2 linked regions of the Homo sapiens genome follow. Each later gene encodes a partner of the first gene's protein in a complex. Each region holds a gene or a part of one and is shown on either strand. Other genes may lie near its edges. A codon is read from its position in the direction of its gene.

The links. Proteins that work in one complex are often made in the same cells at the same time.
Region 2: the proteins of JARID2 (region 1) and EED are in contact, whole or in part, in a cryo-EM structure (PDB 6C23), measured with the Homo sapiens proteins. Residues at the interface, in NP_004964.2 of Homo sapiens: Pro109, Gln114, Arg115, Lys116, Phe117; in NP_003788.2 of Homo sapiens: Pro95 (codon at 4,411), Phe97 (codon at 4,417), Tyr148, Arg306, Asn307, Tyr308, Cys324, Asp362, Ile363, Trp364, Tyr365, Arg414, Asp430.

The regions. Positions count from the first base shown.
Region 1 is NC_000006.12:15,514,544-15,522,883, forward strand, and holds the end of JARID2 (protein Jumonji), read left to right. Parts: intron 1-2,617; coding exon 2,618-2,725; intron 2,726-5,525; coding exon 5,526-5,708; 3' UTR 5,709-7,499; downstream 7,500-8,340.
Region 2 is NC_000011.10:86,247,753-86,254,752, forward strand, and holds part of EED (polycomb protein EED), read left to right. Parts: intron 1-1,696; exon of another isoform or gene 1,697-1,808; intron 1,809-2,543; coding exon 2,544-2,696; intron 2,697-4,395; coding exon 4,396-4,488; intron 4,489-7,000. UniProt on the Homo sapiens protein: Polycomb group (PcG) protein. Component of the PRC2/EED-EZH2 complex, which methylates 'Lys-9' and 'Lys-27' of histone H3, leading to transcriptional repression of the affected target gene.

The DNA.
Region 1 (8,340 bases):
GTGTGACTGTGTCATGCCGTCTCACCCCGAGTCCTGGCGTGCCCTGTAGAAGAGGGAGGACACAGCCTCTCCCGGATGAGTCAGATCGTCAGATCGTCAGATCAGGGCTTTGTAACATTTGAAAGAGCTAAAAACTCGGTGTGTCCTCATCTCCTCCTTACCTAAGGACGCAAATCACATTGTATCAGATAGGCCCACCCTCATGGCCTCATTTGAGCTGATTTACCTCTTTAGAGGCCCTACCCCCAACTGCAGTCACAGCTGAGATCCTGGAGGTTCAACGTTTGCATTTGATGGGGGACAAATGCAGTCCGTGACCGCCCTGCCTCCTGTCCTGTAGATTTCCTTCTGTCTGGTTTTTTCCCCCAGACTTCTCAAAATGTATTACCTAGAGCCATTTGGTTCTTAAAAGAAAATGATGATAAGCATTTTCCCAGATCTTCAAAGTATCTTATAAACATCACTGATAAAAGCTGCATAGCTTGGTGTGCTCTCTCTCTGTTCTTTTTTTTTTTTGTTTGTTTGAGACAGTCTTGCTCTGTTGCCTAGGATGGAATGCGTGCTGTGATCCTGTCTCACTGTAGCCTCAACCTCCTGGTCATCCTCCCACCTCAGCCTCCTGAGTAGCTGGGACAGCAGGTGTACCACCACGCCTGGTTAACTTTTTTTTTTTTTGTGGTAGAGATGGGGTTTTGCTGTTACCCATAGGCTGCCTACTTCAGCCTCCCAGAGCCCCAGGATTATAGGCATGGGCCACTGCGCCCAGCTGTCCATCCTCTTGCTGGAACACGCTATTCATTTCCATGCACTGAGGGCTGTATGGTAGTTACACCTGGGGGTGAAGCTGGTCTGTCCCTGTGAGGTGGCACCAGGTGGCCTCATTTTCAAGCCATCCTTCAGAAACTTCAGAGTTGTCACCTGGCATTTCCTGTCAGCCTGAAAGTTATTTTAAGAAGAATGTATTGTGAGGCCGGGCATGGTAGGCCAATCCCAGTGCTTCGGGAGGCAATGGTGGGCAGATCACTCGAGGCCAGGAGTGCGAGACCAGCCTGGGTGACAGAGGGAGACTAATCTCTACAAAAAATACAAAAAATTAACTGGGTGTGGTGGCGGGGGTATCACTTGAGCCCAGAAGTTCAAGGCTACAGTGAGCCATGATCACACCACTGTACTCCAGCCTGGGTGACAGAGTGACAACCTGTCTCTTTAAAAAAAAAAAACAAAAACAAAAACCAGGCACGGTGGCTTATGCTTGTAATCCCAGCACTTTGGGAGGCTGAGGCGGGCCAATCACAGCCTGGCCAACATGGTGAAACACCATCTCTACTAAAAATAGAAAAAATTAGCCGTGCATGATGTTGAGCGCCTGTAGTCCCAGCTACTCGGGAGGTGGAGGTTGCAGTGAGCCGAGATCGCGCCATCGCCCAGGTGACAGTGCGAGACTCCATCTCAAAAAAAAAAAAAAAACCCGTTATAAATCCATAGGCAAAAATTGGGGTTTGACTTATACGTTGACAGTTTGCATTGCTTGGATTACTAATACATTTGTGAATTTAAATTTGATGTGTTTCCTGTTCTTCCTGTCCTTGGCCCCGTGTCTCTCCAAGGTCTTGTTTCTGTCAGTAGGTGGCATTCCCACACTCCTACAACGTGTTCTCTGTTCCTTGCTTAGAAACACCGCAGACGAAAACAAGTCCTTCCCCTCAAGCTTTCTGAGAAAGGCCTATGACTCTTCTCCTCTTGAGTGTTAAGACTGAATTTTTCCTTATTTTCAAACTCAGAATTAGAATAGGACTTGGAGTCAGCGTGAAGTATGGGAGCCCTCCGGCAGAAGCCAGGTGGCTGTTTCCTTTCATCCGGCCCCTCTCAACCCTAGACAGGCCCCCAGTGAGGGTCTCTGTCCCAGCACTCTCCTGTGGCCTCAGGCAGCAGGGTGTCCACTGGCGGGACAGCTGTGGGCTTTGTGGACAGCCCGCCCAAGGGGGCCGGGGCTGGTGGGTGAGGTCATCGGCGTCACAGCGGTCAGGAATCTGTGATGTTGAGGGTTTTGGGGGAGTTTGCATGGGGTCGTTGGACGCCGCTTGCTCTGTTGACTGTGAGCCACTCATGGACCACCATGAGAACCTGTTTTGCTGCTGGAAAGTCAAGGGTGCGTTCCCCGGGTGGCCGCCTAAGTTGGAGTCCTCCATGTTCCACATCTATTCCAGCACTAGGGTGGTTTCAAACACAGGATCTCAGGAGCCCTCAGAACTCAAGAGATGAGAAATACGCACCCCTCACTGTCTTTAGCAGCCTGGTGGTGACTGAACCTCTCCCAGGAAACTCCAGCAGAAATCTGGAGGGGACTTGAGGGCCACTCCCAGGTCTAACTCAGAGGTGGTCAGTTACTCACCTTCCTAGTTGAAGACCATGTTCCAGGTGTTTGGTCAGTTTTCGTTTTAGTCCATTTCCAGCATTTCCAGTCCTCAAAGCCCTTGGCCCGGGTGGTGGGTGCTGGGGCTACTCTGGCGCGGGCAGTGGGTGTGGTGGCTGCCCGGCCGGGCGTGCTCCTACCTTACCCTCCCAGGGCGCTGTGGAGCTGCCTCCTGACCTTCGGGTGTCCTGCTCTTGCTTGCAGGTGGTACAAGAGAACGAAAACGTCGTGTTCTGTCTGGAGTGTGCTCTGCGCCACGTGGAGAAACAGAAGTCCTGCCGAGGGCTGAAGTTGATGTACCGCTACGATGAGGTCAGTCCCTGCCCGCGGGGTAGGGCAGGGCGGCAGCGTGGCGCCTTCCCTGCTCCCGGCTGGATGTAGGCACTCCGGCCTGGCAGTTCTGTGCCTGGCGGGTAGTCAGGGCTCTGCAGGCCTGAGGTGCCCTGTTCTTAGGCCCTAAACCCATTCAGGCCCCATGTTAGGATCCCAGGGGGAGCGGGGTTCCTGCACGGGCATTTGGATTTGAGCAATGGGCTCTTAACAGGGCTGAGGCTCTTCCTGCAGCCGCCCCCCCGGCTTTCCCAAGGGCTGCACCACTGTGGTTTAGACCCAGACCCTTTTTTGTGACCTGTCCCAGGCACAGTGGGATGGTTGGCAGTGGCCTCTCCAATCTGCACTAACTTGACACCAGCCCCTTCAGGCTGAGAGAGCTGGAAGTGTCTGCGGACACTGGGGCAGGACGGGCCCCATGATGTGAAATCCCGGTGCCTTCCTGCAGGTGCCACGCTCTTCTGGAGAGGGGGGTCATAACAACACACAGCCTGTGCAGCTGGGGGCCGCTCTGAGTGGCGGAACTCCTGGCAGCAGTGCCTCTCCCCTGCTCTGCCCGCCTTCCCCACGTGTGCTTCCCACAGACTCTGATGAGGCTGGTTACGAGGAAGGTCGCCACATTGTGGTCATTGCACATTTGAGGCCACTGAGTGGGGTGGGTGCTGCGGGTATGACTGTGAGGGGCCTGGTGTGTCTGGGGGCCCAGGCAGTGGGGCCAAGTGGTGGGTCTCACTGGATAAGCCTTGAGCTAAATGATCGGAGAGCTGGAAGAAGAACTCTTTGCATCTGTTTTGTTTCAAAGAGCATGCTGGGTGAAGGCAGTAAGCACCTGCTGTGTCCCTCCTTCACCTTAGCAGCAAATGTCCAGGCACAGTTGCAAATAACGAAGCCTTTGCGGCTGAGCACGAGCATGGCTCTGGCACCTTGTGGGGGTGCAGGCGGCGGCACGGGGAGGCTTCCTCTGGCTGCCTGGAAAGCGCTCTGTGAATCATGGGTTGTACCTCTCACCAGCAGCCTGTTTCTGTAGTCGGATGTGTGACGTGACCAGATCCTGGGAAAAGAATGGCATTCAGGGGCTGTCTGAGACCTAATGGTTGGTTTTGATGAATTAGGAGCAAAGGTATTTGGAAACTGCATACTCTGTAGTGGCTGAGTAGTTCAGTAAGCATGTCTGTGCCTCTGTCCCCTGTTGAGCTGTGCATTTTTTTGTTTTTAAGACGGAGTCTCGCTCTGTCGCCAGGCTGGAGTGCAGTGGCGTGATCTCGGCCCACTGCAAGCTCCGCCTCCCAGGTTCACGCCATTCTCCTGCTTCAGTTTCTGGAGTAGCTGGGATTACAGGTGCCCGCCACTACGCACCCGGCTAATTTTTCTTTTTAGTAGAGACAGGGTTTTACCATGTTGGTCAGGCTGGTCTCAAACTCCTGACCTCAGGTGATCAGCTTGCTTCAGCCTCCCAAAGTGCTGGGATTACAGGCGTGAGCCACCACACCTGGCCCATTCTTTTAAATAGGAAATTTCTACCTTGTAAACAGAGACCATTGCAAAATCTTCTCAACCTCCCAGTGTGCCCAGTACACAAATCACCCATGTCTGGGCCTGCTGACCCGGGACAGTCTGCTTTAAACACCCACCCTTGCTGGGGTGGGGGGTGCACCTAGATTGCAAATCCCTGAATTCATGGCTTGGGTTCTCATGGATGGTGAAGCTCTCTGGGGAGTTTGGAGCCATTTGTGTCTCTGGCCCTTGCAGGCTGGCTGAGCAGGGTGTTGGGCCGCCTGCCGCCGAGCCTAGTGTGAGAGCACTGGTCTGGGGCAGGTGCTGCCCACCTGTCGAGCTGCACGCAGGGGAGGGAACGGTGTCCTCCTGTAACCGCACACTGCCGCTCCTCCTCACTTGTCCTTATGGTAAGGTAGCAGTAGCCGCCTAAATGGGTTTTATGGCAGCTCATCCACTTATCCTTTATCAGTGTTTATCATCAGTACCTCAAGCAGCCATGACTATGGTGTTATTACAGATACGTGTGGACCGCCCCGCCTTCCGAAGGCACCTTTAACTTGTGATGGGAGCCAGCTGTCACTTTCTCACCCTCATCTTGAGGGCTTTTCAGAGGACTAGAGATCAGGCCCTCAGATGTTTCATTCCATGGCTGGCTTCCTCTCCTGCCAGGGTCAGCATGGTTCCCAGCCACCCGTGGCCCAGAGAGATGCTCATAAGATGCACGTTTGCTACTCCTCCCCATGTTGTTTTTAAAAATGATATGATTATAGGATGTACTGTGTGAAAGTTACAAACACAGTTTTTGGTGCCGACAGATAAATGATTCTCTTGAGTGAATTACAAGGATATGTATAGGTTGAGAAGTGTTTGCATTTACTTGCATGGCCAGGTTCAGTGGCCGGTAGCTAAAGTGAGTCAAGTAGCTTGGGTATTTGTGTCACCATCCAGGATGTAACAAAGCCCCTGGGTCTCTTTGCTGAGTGCTCCGTGGTAGAGGCAGTGCTCTGGGCTCCCCTGCCAGCCCTGCCCTTATGAGCAGGCAAAGCATGGTGGACCAGGGTGTTGATGAGGATGAAACGGCCATGCCTGCTATGTGGCATCAGGAGGAGCTGGGAAAGGGAGACTCACTGCATCTGAGCCTCTCGGGGTTATTTTAAAACCTGTTGGTTGGTGTGGTGAAGGGGACCGCTGCCCTCTGCCCTAAACTTGCCCCTGCATGGCTCTCAGGGACAGAGCTCTTGTTAATACGGTATGTTAACTGTGTCTTCCTTTCACCCCCAAACAGGAACAGATTATCAGTCTGGTCAATCAGATCTGCGGCAAAGTGTCTGGTAAAAACGGCAGCATTGAGAACTGTCTCAGTAAACCCACACCAAAAAGAGGTCCCCGCAAGAGAGCGACAGTGGACGTGCCCCCCTCCCGTCTGTCAGCCTCCAGTTCATCCAAAAGTGCTTCGAGCTCATCATGAAGATGCCAACGCCCGTGGTCGATTTATATATATTTTTTTGTAATTATTATATTCTAGTTTGGAGTACTTGCTGTAGGATTCAAGCTGTCTTTGCACTAGCTCTAAAGAAGATTTTCTTCTGGTTTTAGAGAACTAATTTTGTTTTAGCATTAAACTGTTGAACTTTTTTTTGTACTTAGAAAACCTAGATACTGCAGTCAGATTTTGGAAACTGCCGTATAGTCACTGTTTTAAAAACCCCGGAGGGGCTGTATTAATTTGTATTGCCCCATGGCTGACAAAAGCCTTTTTTTTTGGTTTTGATTTTTTTTTTTTTGTAACTGTTGGGGGGAAAAAGGCTTTTTAACCCATTTTTGAAGAGGGTGAAGTTTGGAGAACAAATTTAAAAACCATCAGTCATGTGAGCAGATTTTTTAGAAGGGATAGGAGACACACGCGCACACACACACACACACGAAACTTGAAATGGCTTTGCTTTGGCTGTCGTCTTCTGCCGTGTGCCAGATGAGCTTGTGATCTGGGAAGCCGGGGCACCCCCGTTTTGTTTCTCTGGGCGGTTGTGGCAGCTGAAGGCGGACGTTGTTTCCTAACCATAGGTGGAACGAGGAGACGGGAGCGAGTGGGCTCTCCACCAGCACATCACTATGCATCTGTTCCAGGAAAGAAGAAAAGCGAGCGAGGAAGACGGAAAAGACTGCCTGCCTTGGAGGGGTCACATGAGGGAGACCTGTGCCTGATTTCATTAGGAAATCCATTCTGTTATTTTTTGGTGCTGTTGGCTACTTTATCAAAAAACCCTTCAATAGCATCCTTAAGATTTAAAAAAAAAAAAAAAAAAAAGGAAAAAAAAGTGATGGAAGCCGTAAGTGCTTCTTTGTCATCGACGTGCAATCTTTCTAACATTCCATCTCCATCTCACCGCTTCTTGTTTGACACCTTCACAAGTCAGCATTAATCTTTCTTTTAAAACTTGTTTCATTTATGATCATGTAGAGAGCCACTAGGAGGCCTGCAGTTATTTTTGAATGTGAAAATGCATTTGCGTTCATCTTGTCTATTTTTTCTCTTCATGTTGTAACAAAAAGGAAAAAAGAAAAAAAAATCCCATCCCTTTTGTACATATGCCTGTAAATTGTTTTAAATACTTGAGCCTTTTTCTCGGTGGGGGGTGGGGAGGGGGGTGAGAAGACAAGATGAAGAAAAGCCTTACATTTCAGTTTCTTCATCGGTTGGATTGGATGCTTACAGGGTTTTTCTTGTAACATTTATAAGTGCTGCTTACATCACTGAACAACAACAAAAAAATAATAATGGAGTAGCTGTTGCCCTTCTCCGGTTGTGTGTACAGTATGTGTGGAATAAAAAAGGGAAACTGTTTTCACAAGCTGTTCTTTGTTTCATAATTGGATTCATCAATCCCGTAGCTACCCATATTGCACTGAGCTTGCCAGTGGTGACTGCCAGGAACGTCCTATGATCCACTTTGTTGGTTGTTGTTGCAGAAGACTGAACTGTTTTGGAATATTTAACAATTACAGAAACAGTCAAGTGTTTTCCAATGTGGTTGTCCGGTTTCTATGGCCTTGCTGTGTACTTTCCCTCTTTTTGACAGTAAACTTCTGCCTATGGCTTACAGTTTGACATTTAATTTATTAGCGCTGCTCTGCACCCCTCCCTTGGGAGGGAGACTTCATGTGGTTTATTGCGAGTTTTTTGTTTACTTTTCAGGTTTGTACTACAAGGTTTAATAATAAAAACAAAGTTTTTTGGACATTTGTCTGTCTTGTGGAAGATGACTGAATGGAATGAGCTCTTTCTTTTCTCGTCCACGGGCAGGGGGCAGAGGATTCCCCCCAGCCAGGGAGCAGAGCCACCCCCCACACTGCAGTCCTGCTCCCACCTGCCACTGGGTCCCCTTCAGCCTAACCTAATGGTTTCCATGTGGCCTGCGGCCGTCCCCCTCATTTCCCATCGAGCTGCGCCCCCCTGCTGAGCTTGCTTTCATGATGAGACGACACTGGGTGCATTCAGGGTGGTATGGCTGCAGACAGACAGACCCCCTCATCCCGGCGGGGAGTCTGTCCCCTCTCTCTCATTGGGCTGGAGGAGTGATGGCAGGAACACATCTCCAGGGGACCAGTTTCTTTTCATAAAGAATGGAGGATTGCTTTGGGCTTGTTTCTGTTCTTTTGGGCCCAGGAGTGTGAAAAAGTAGGGGTTGGACTGGCTGGCTACTGGACTAATGATACTTACTTACTTCTGTAATGATCAACGGAAAACCCCAAGCTTTGCCAGAGTGGTTTGGCTACAGTCAGCTCTTCTACAGGAAGTGGCATTTTCCACTTGTGAAACGGTAGGTCATTCCCTGCCTCATGCAGAACTCAGCCCTGTGGAGCCTCCACCACCTGGCCCAGGCCCTGCCCACATGCAACCTCCCGGGGTGGCCCTCAATGACCTGCACGTCCCTTCACTCTAAGGAACCCTGAGTTACAGTGGCCTTAAGGACATGTGTATTTAGAAGCCTTTGTGTACAAACTAGCTCTGTGCGCTCTCAGTTTACCGTCCTCACACTTTATTGTTAGCTGTTCTTTAAGTTTCTCACACATTATTGGCAATTATGTAAAAATCAAGA
Region 2 (7,000 bases), on another chromosome or scaffold:
TAGTTTTACTCTTGAGGGAGCCAAATAATGGCAAAAGGCCAAAGCAGATGGGGTGTGGGGGAATATGTTTTTGTGTTAGAGTTCAGGTAACCTGAGCAGTTACTACTGTTAATGTGAGTCAGAGAATTACAGGCACATATTTTACATTTATTGTGTTACCTGCCATTTTATTGAACTTTTTGAGATCATATGACTGCAGAGTAGTTGGCTTCTGCGAGAGTACTAATGGATGCCTTGGTAGTAAGATCAGAGGGCTGAATCTGGAGACTTGTCTTTTTGCTTAAGCAAAAGCAAAGATGCAGGGAATCCCTGTGGCAAGATGCAGGTGCAAATTACTGCCCTGTGTCTCTTTCCTCGTTGGGCAAGTGAAGATGGTAGTACCATGTCTGTTGCACAGTATCATTCTTTACTTTGAGAATGGAATAGGATGGAGGTCACCCTGTACATATATTAGACACTCAGCAAAGACTTGATTTTAGTTTAAAGATAAAATGGAAGCATGGTGGCTGTATTACATTTTCATTTGATTCCATCTTGATTTGCCTTGGGAGGAGATGGGTAAATTAAGTGATCAGAAGTAAAATAAGCAACGTGCCCTATTAACGAATGTTTTGTGTGGCCTCTGTATTGGCAGCTCAGTGTTTAGCCAGAATGTAAAGAAACTGATATATAAAAACGTCTTAGAGTTTTTAAAATTTCAGTTCTCTAGTGTTAAAAGGTAATTTTACAGAAAAAATGGCAAGTGAACACATGTTGAAACTTTTACTCAGAGGGAACCAGGCAAATGTTATACAGTAATGGTTAACCCGCAAAATCAAAACAGTACAAATTTATTAATATATGGAGTAAAGGAATGGAGAGATGAATTCCAAATGGAGACAGAAACTTTTTTTTCCCTTGAGTGGAAGGGAAGACATTTTGAACCTCTACTGTAGAGACAAAATTTACATGTCTATCAGTTATTCATAATGAAAAAAGAGTTGTGGCTGGGCGCAGTGGCTCACACCTGTAATCCCAGCACTTTAGGTGGCTGAGGTGGGAGGATCCTTTGAGTCCAGGAGTTTGAGACCAGCCTGGGCGACATCGTGAAACTCTGTCTCTACCAAAAATTAGCTGGGTGTGGTGGCCAGCTCCTGTTGTCCCAGCTACTCAGGAGGCTAAGGTGGGGGGAAGATCACTTGAGTCTGGGAGGTGGAGGTTGCGTTGAACCAAGGACAGAGTGGGTGACAGAGGGAGAGCCTGTCTCAAAAAAGAGTTGTAAGATAGCTCAAAGACATAGTGGAGGGCTATAGTCTGGTAACTTGGAAGGATGTGCTATATAGATAATGCATAGTTTTCCACTGAGATACAGAATTGTTTTCTACGTTTGATGTTAATTATGTGAATACAACTGAAAAGGTGGAGAGAAAAAGAGATTAAAATACCACATTTTCTATTTCTGTAAAGACTAATGATATTCACATTAAATTACAATTCAAATATTTGTTGAGTACGTACTGCTTGCTACCCGCCTATTATTTCATTTATGATATTTTTTAACCTTCTATATAAAACCAACTTTAGGAAGCAATAATTTAAAAATAGCCCCTAAAGCAGTGTTTCCTAGGCTGTTTAATAGGCATTTCATGGAAAAAAAAAAAAAAAAAGGCTTCCTCTGGAATGTATTTTAGAACTGCTGCCCTAAGATCCTAGATTAAATAAATCTTTTCTTTCCAAAGGAGACATTGGAATCTGTAATCAGGAGGTAGTGGAATCCTCTTCTGAGATTAGAGAGCTGAGATTAGAGGGCCACTCGTGTGTGAGATAAGGTATGAATTAGGAGAATTTTCAAGGTTTCCTGCAGTCATTTCTTTTTTTTGGAAGGATTTACTTTAATTGTGATTGAGAGTCTCTGGAGTTCTGATTTATGAGTATTATTACTTTAGAACAATGAGACAGTTTTAACTTGTAAATAGCATAGAATATATGTAGCACTTTAAAAAAATTCTAAATGTTTTGCGTTATAAGCAGAATTTGAATAACAGGATTTTAAAAAGTGACATCTAATGTAGAAGCCATTAACACTCCTGCTTCAAACGGCTCCCCAGCTCCATGCTCCAGACTGAGCAGCAGTCAAATACATTATGAAGACATATACATCAGTCAGATTTAAGAGTCACAGCTTTGGGATGGAATTACCAGCCAAGAGACCAGTTAGGCTTTTTCAGCACTTCCAGTACCTTTTGTAAAGAGCTGTAAAGATTCACTGATACAGTGTATTAAAGTGACTGGAACAGACCAGTGCCTTATTAAAGACAGTATTACTCTTCCATTATTCTCATTAGTATTTATTTCATTTTCATTTTTGTTGAAATATAAAATATCTACAAACCTTCTAACCTGTAGCTGGATTATGTTTATCCTTATGTGGAGGCAAGAATACATTTTTTTCTTCTTGTAGAAATTATTTCTCTTAGGTCAGTCAGCATCTTCCCAGTAGAGTTATTTACTGCTAAAAACAGTATTGCTGTTTCATGTAATTTTTCCTCATTTACTGCTTACAGGATGACGCTGTCAGTATAGAAAGTGGTACAAACACTGAACGCCCTGATACACCTACAAACACGCCAAATGCACCTGGAAGGAAAAGTTGGGGAAAGGGAAAATGGAAGTCAAAGAAATGCAAATATTCTTTCAAATGTGTAAATAGTCTCAAGGTATGTGCAAAAAAAGATCCTTTGGGCTGAATGCTAGGCTTCAGAAATTATTTCTCTGTGGCACGCATTTCGTACTCAGGATACTCTGTCAAGTTGTAAATATTTTAAAGTTACAATGTTTTCTGAAGGGTTTTTTTTTTTGTAGTTCAGACTGCGTATCTATTTTAGTCCATCCCATGTTTAGTTTTTTGGTTTTGTTTTTTGTTGTTTTAATTTAAATATGTGACAGTGTTGCAGGATGTTTTTGCTTTATTGTTTGCATTCAAATTATAAGATTTGGGTAACTATTACTCTTTATATTTTAGTAAAACTTAAAAAACATAAGCCACTTCTGGCATCAGTTTTTAAAAAGAACTGAATGTAACCCATTAACTTTGACTAAGTATAAATTGAAACAGATGTTTTACTTTGTACAGTTTCTGTCCTTTGTTTTATTTATAACTGTTTTCAAAGAAAAAGGTGTAAAAAATTTTTAAACTTTTTAATATTAAATATTTAGGGAAAAGGGGGTTTTGGTTATTTAAATTAATCTGTCCCCAATAGTATTTTTATTTACTTTATAAAAGGGGTTACTGGTGTTTAAGATATTTTCTTTTATATATGTCCAGTTTGTTTTTTAAATGTGAGGCTATTTTTTTCTATACTGAGGAAAAATGTGTATTATCTCATACATATGTAAGTTAAAACCTTTTCTAAATATCCAAATATATTTTTTATAAGTAAAGTTTTGGGAAAGCATAAGAAGCTATGACTATGACATTTTTCTGTCTGTGTAGCAAAAATTCGATGCTCAGTGTGTCAGATTTTGCTCCTGTAAAAGGAGAGAAATTAATCTCAGCATATTTTTTAAAAGTCAATTATAGTTTCATGTGCATATTTATTTACATTAACGTACTACTTTTAGGTACTGTACCTGGAAGATGTTTTTAGCTGCCTTTTATACTTAAGGCAGTATTTCAAAATCCTAAAGCTGTGGCTTTTCAAATGATGAGAAAACGAAAGACGTACTTTAAAAGTGAAAACAGTGCCTTAAACTGCATCTGAAAGTCAGTGTTAAATGCCAGAAGTTGGCCAGTAAAATCCTAAAGCTGAAAAATAACTTTGTGAACAAAAGTGCATAATTGTTCTTTGTACATCTCCTATAGCCTCCTGGTAACTGTGCAGTTACAGTTTATTTCTTCCCCTAGTCCCCAGTGTTCAGATATTCTCATTCTGACTAACAGAAAACAGTGATTTGAATGGAGTCTGCTATGCTTCACTTTACAAGGGAAAAATTTAGCCTTATAAAATTTAGTGAATGCCAGAGAAGCTATTAAGGCCATCTGTTAATTTCCTGTTTCAGAAAAATAAATTGTGTCCTTTTGTATCCACCAAAATTATCCAGTTTATTGTGATTCAGAATATGATTGGCTTATTAAGAAAAAGGCAAATATTATAAGTGTTTTCGTAGGTAAGCGGTTATTACCTAACTTGTGATTTCAGCCTTTGGTTGTGATAAAACTTTATCATACACAATATTTTAAAATGTGAAAACTAGACTAGTAGACATCTTTTAATTTTAGTGTCAAAAGTTAGCTTATGTATGATACACAAAATAATGTATTGCATTTTGGAAAAAAGAAGGGGATAGGTTAGTTTACTGTCATTTTCTGGTTTGTAAGATACATTAATCTTTTCTTATTTCATGATTATTTTATAGGAAGATCATAACCAACCATTGTTTGGAGTTCAGTTTAACTGGCACAGTAAAGAAGGAGATCCATTAGTGTTTGCAACTGTAGGAAGCAACAGAGTGAGTGTTAAGGGGTCTATTTAGTATTTGGCTTGATTTCCAGATCTGGTGTTAATGTAATATTGAAATAGAATAATTTCAAAGTGCATTTTGTGAAGCTGGTTTAGCAATATGATTCTTTCATGTAAGAGTGAAGGTTTCTAGAAATTAATTAAAACTAGTATGCATGGCTGAAAATACATCTATATTTAATATATTACCCCTAATTATTTATGAAACAGGTTTTATACTTGTATTTGTCTTCATAAATACTTGGTTGAAAGAATTGGCGTCCTTTTTTTTTTTTTTTAATTGGCGTTCTTTTTAAAGTGATTTTGGTATTTATCATTCAAATAGCGTAAGAACTGGCTGTGATTTTTTTAAAATTAAGGTAATGAATGGCTCTATAAATGAAGCATAAATCCAGTGGATTTAAATAAGTTATTGAGATGTTTTAATTACTTGCAGTAAACATTTGAGTTTGCTGGGTTTTTTTGTTTTGAGACAGGTAGTGTTTGGTGGTGATTGTTGTTGTTGTTGTTGTTGTTTGTTTTTGAGAGAGAGAGAGTCTTACTCCTTCCTCCAGGATGGAGTGCAGTGGTTAATCAAGGCTTACTGCAGCCTCAACTTCTGGGGCTCAGGTGATCCTCCCATGTCAGCCTTCTGAGTAGCTACAGGCATGCACTACCATCCCTGGCTAATTTTTTTTGTAGGGATAGGTTTTCACCGTGTTGCCCATGCTGGTCTTGAACTCTTGGGCTCAAGCAATCTACCTGCCTTGGCCTCCCAAAGAGCTGGGGTTGCAGTCATGAGCCACCATGTCCAGCCTTTTAAGGAAATTTTATAATGACATGTAAGGCTCTAGGCCTTTTACTATTTGACAAGGTCAATTCATTGAAACTCTAAATATTTTTAAGTTACCACTGAAGTTGATAACATGAAATAATAGCTTTTTTTCTTCTGTTTTTGGTGTTTAGTCAAATGTAGGTTTTAAGATAATGTAGTCTGCTTATAGTTGTTTAGTTCCTAGATTCTTTGAAAACAACAATTCAGAGGAAAAATTTTGCGGTTTTAAGAAAAGGTTGAGGTTATTTTTTTCCTAGTTGGGAATGTAGTGCATTAATTAAATTTGAGTCCACTTTTAAGACACCACTGTAAACCTAAGTTAATATTTAGCTTTGATAGTATTATAATTGGTATAGTTTGTGCTCCAGTGTGCTGATTGCAGTGTTTTAGGTTTTCTAACAAAAAGAATCCCTATTTTTATTTAAAGTGACATAAAGGGGTGTCATATAGTTTATTGAATTATAAAAAGTTCTGCTGTTAGAATTTCTTTAAAAGGAAGAAAGAAAACAAAAACAATTACCACATAAGACATAACCTAGTTAGCAGCCATATAAAGAATTTTTTTTGAACATTAACATAGAGGAGATAATGAATTAATAGGTTGTGATGATACACAGGATCTTCAGAGGTCTTCAGTACTATTATAAAATAATAATAGGTTTTTGCTAATGTGACTGACTATAAGCTATAAGAAAAATGGGGCCGGGCACAGTGGCTCACGCCTGTAATCCCAGCATTTTGGGAGGCTGAGGCAGGTGGATCACCTGAACTCAGGAGTTCGAGACCAGCCTGACCAACGTGGTGAAACCCTGTCTCTACTAAAAACACAAAAATTAGCTGGGCATGATAGCGAGTGCCTGTAATCTCAGCTACACGGGAGGCTGAGGCAGGAGGATCACTGGAATCCGGGAGGCAGAGGTTGCAGTGAGCCAAGATCATGCCATTGCACTCCAGTCTGGACGACAAGAGTGAAACTCTGTCTCAAAAAAAAAAAAAAAAAAAAAAAAAAAGAAAATGGAAAGAAATTTATAAAAGTTTAGTATTACAAAATTGTGTATGGTGTATGTATAGTTTTAATTTTAGAGTATGCAACAAATGAAAAAGGCTATCATACATGTGAAAGTTAATGTTTGATTATCTGTACCCATGAGAAAATAATTCATTAAGCAAATTGTAGACTTTTAAATATGTAACTAATATGTAAATACTCCAAAACTATCCAAAGACTTATTTTTATTTGAATTTTTATTTTTTATGGTTTTTTTTTTTTTTTGAGACTGAGTCTCTCTCTGTTGCCCAGGCTGGAGTGCAGTGGTGCAATCTTGGCTCACTGCAACTTCTGCCTCCTGGGTTCTAGCGATTCTCCTGTCTCAGCCTCCTGAGTAGCTGGGACTACAGGCACATGCCACCACACCCACCTAATTTTTGTATTTTTAGTAGAGACGGGGTTCCACCGTGTTAGCCAGGATGGTCTTGATCTCCTGACCTCGTGATCCACCCGCCTCGGCCTCCCAAAGTGCTGGGATTAAAGACATGAGCCACTGTGTCCGGACTTATTTTATTTTATTTTTTTTTGAGACAGAGTTTCGCTTTTGTTGCCAGGCTGGAGTGCAATGGTGCAATCTCGGCTCACTGCAACCTCCGCCTCCCGGGTTCAAGTGATTCACCAGCCTCAGCCTCCTGAGTA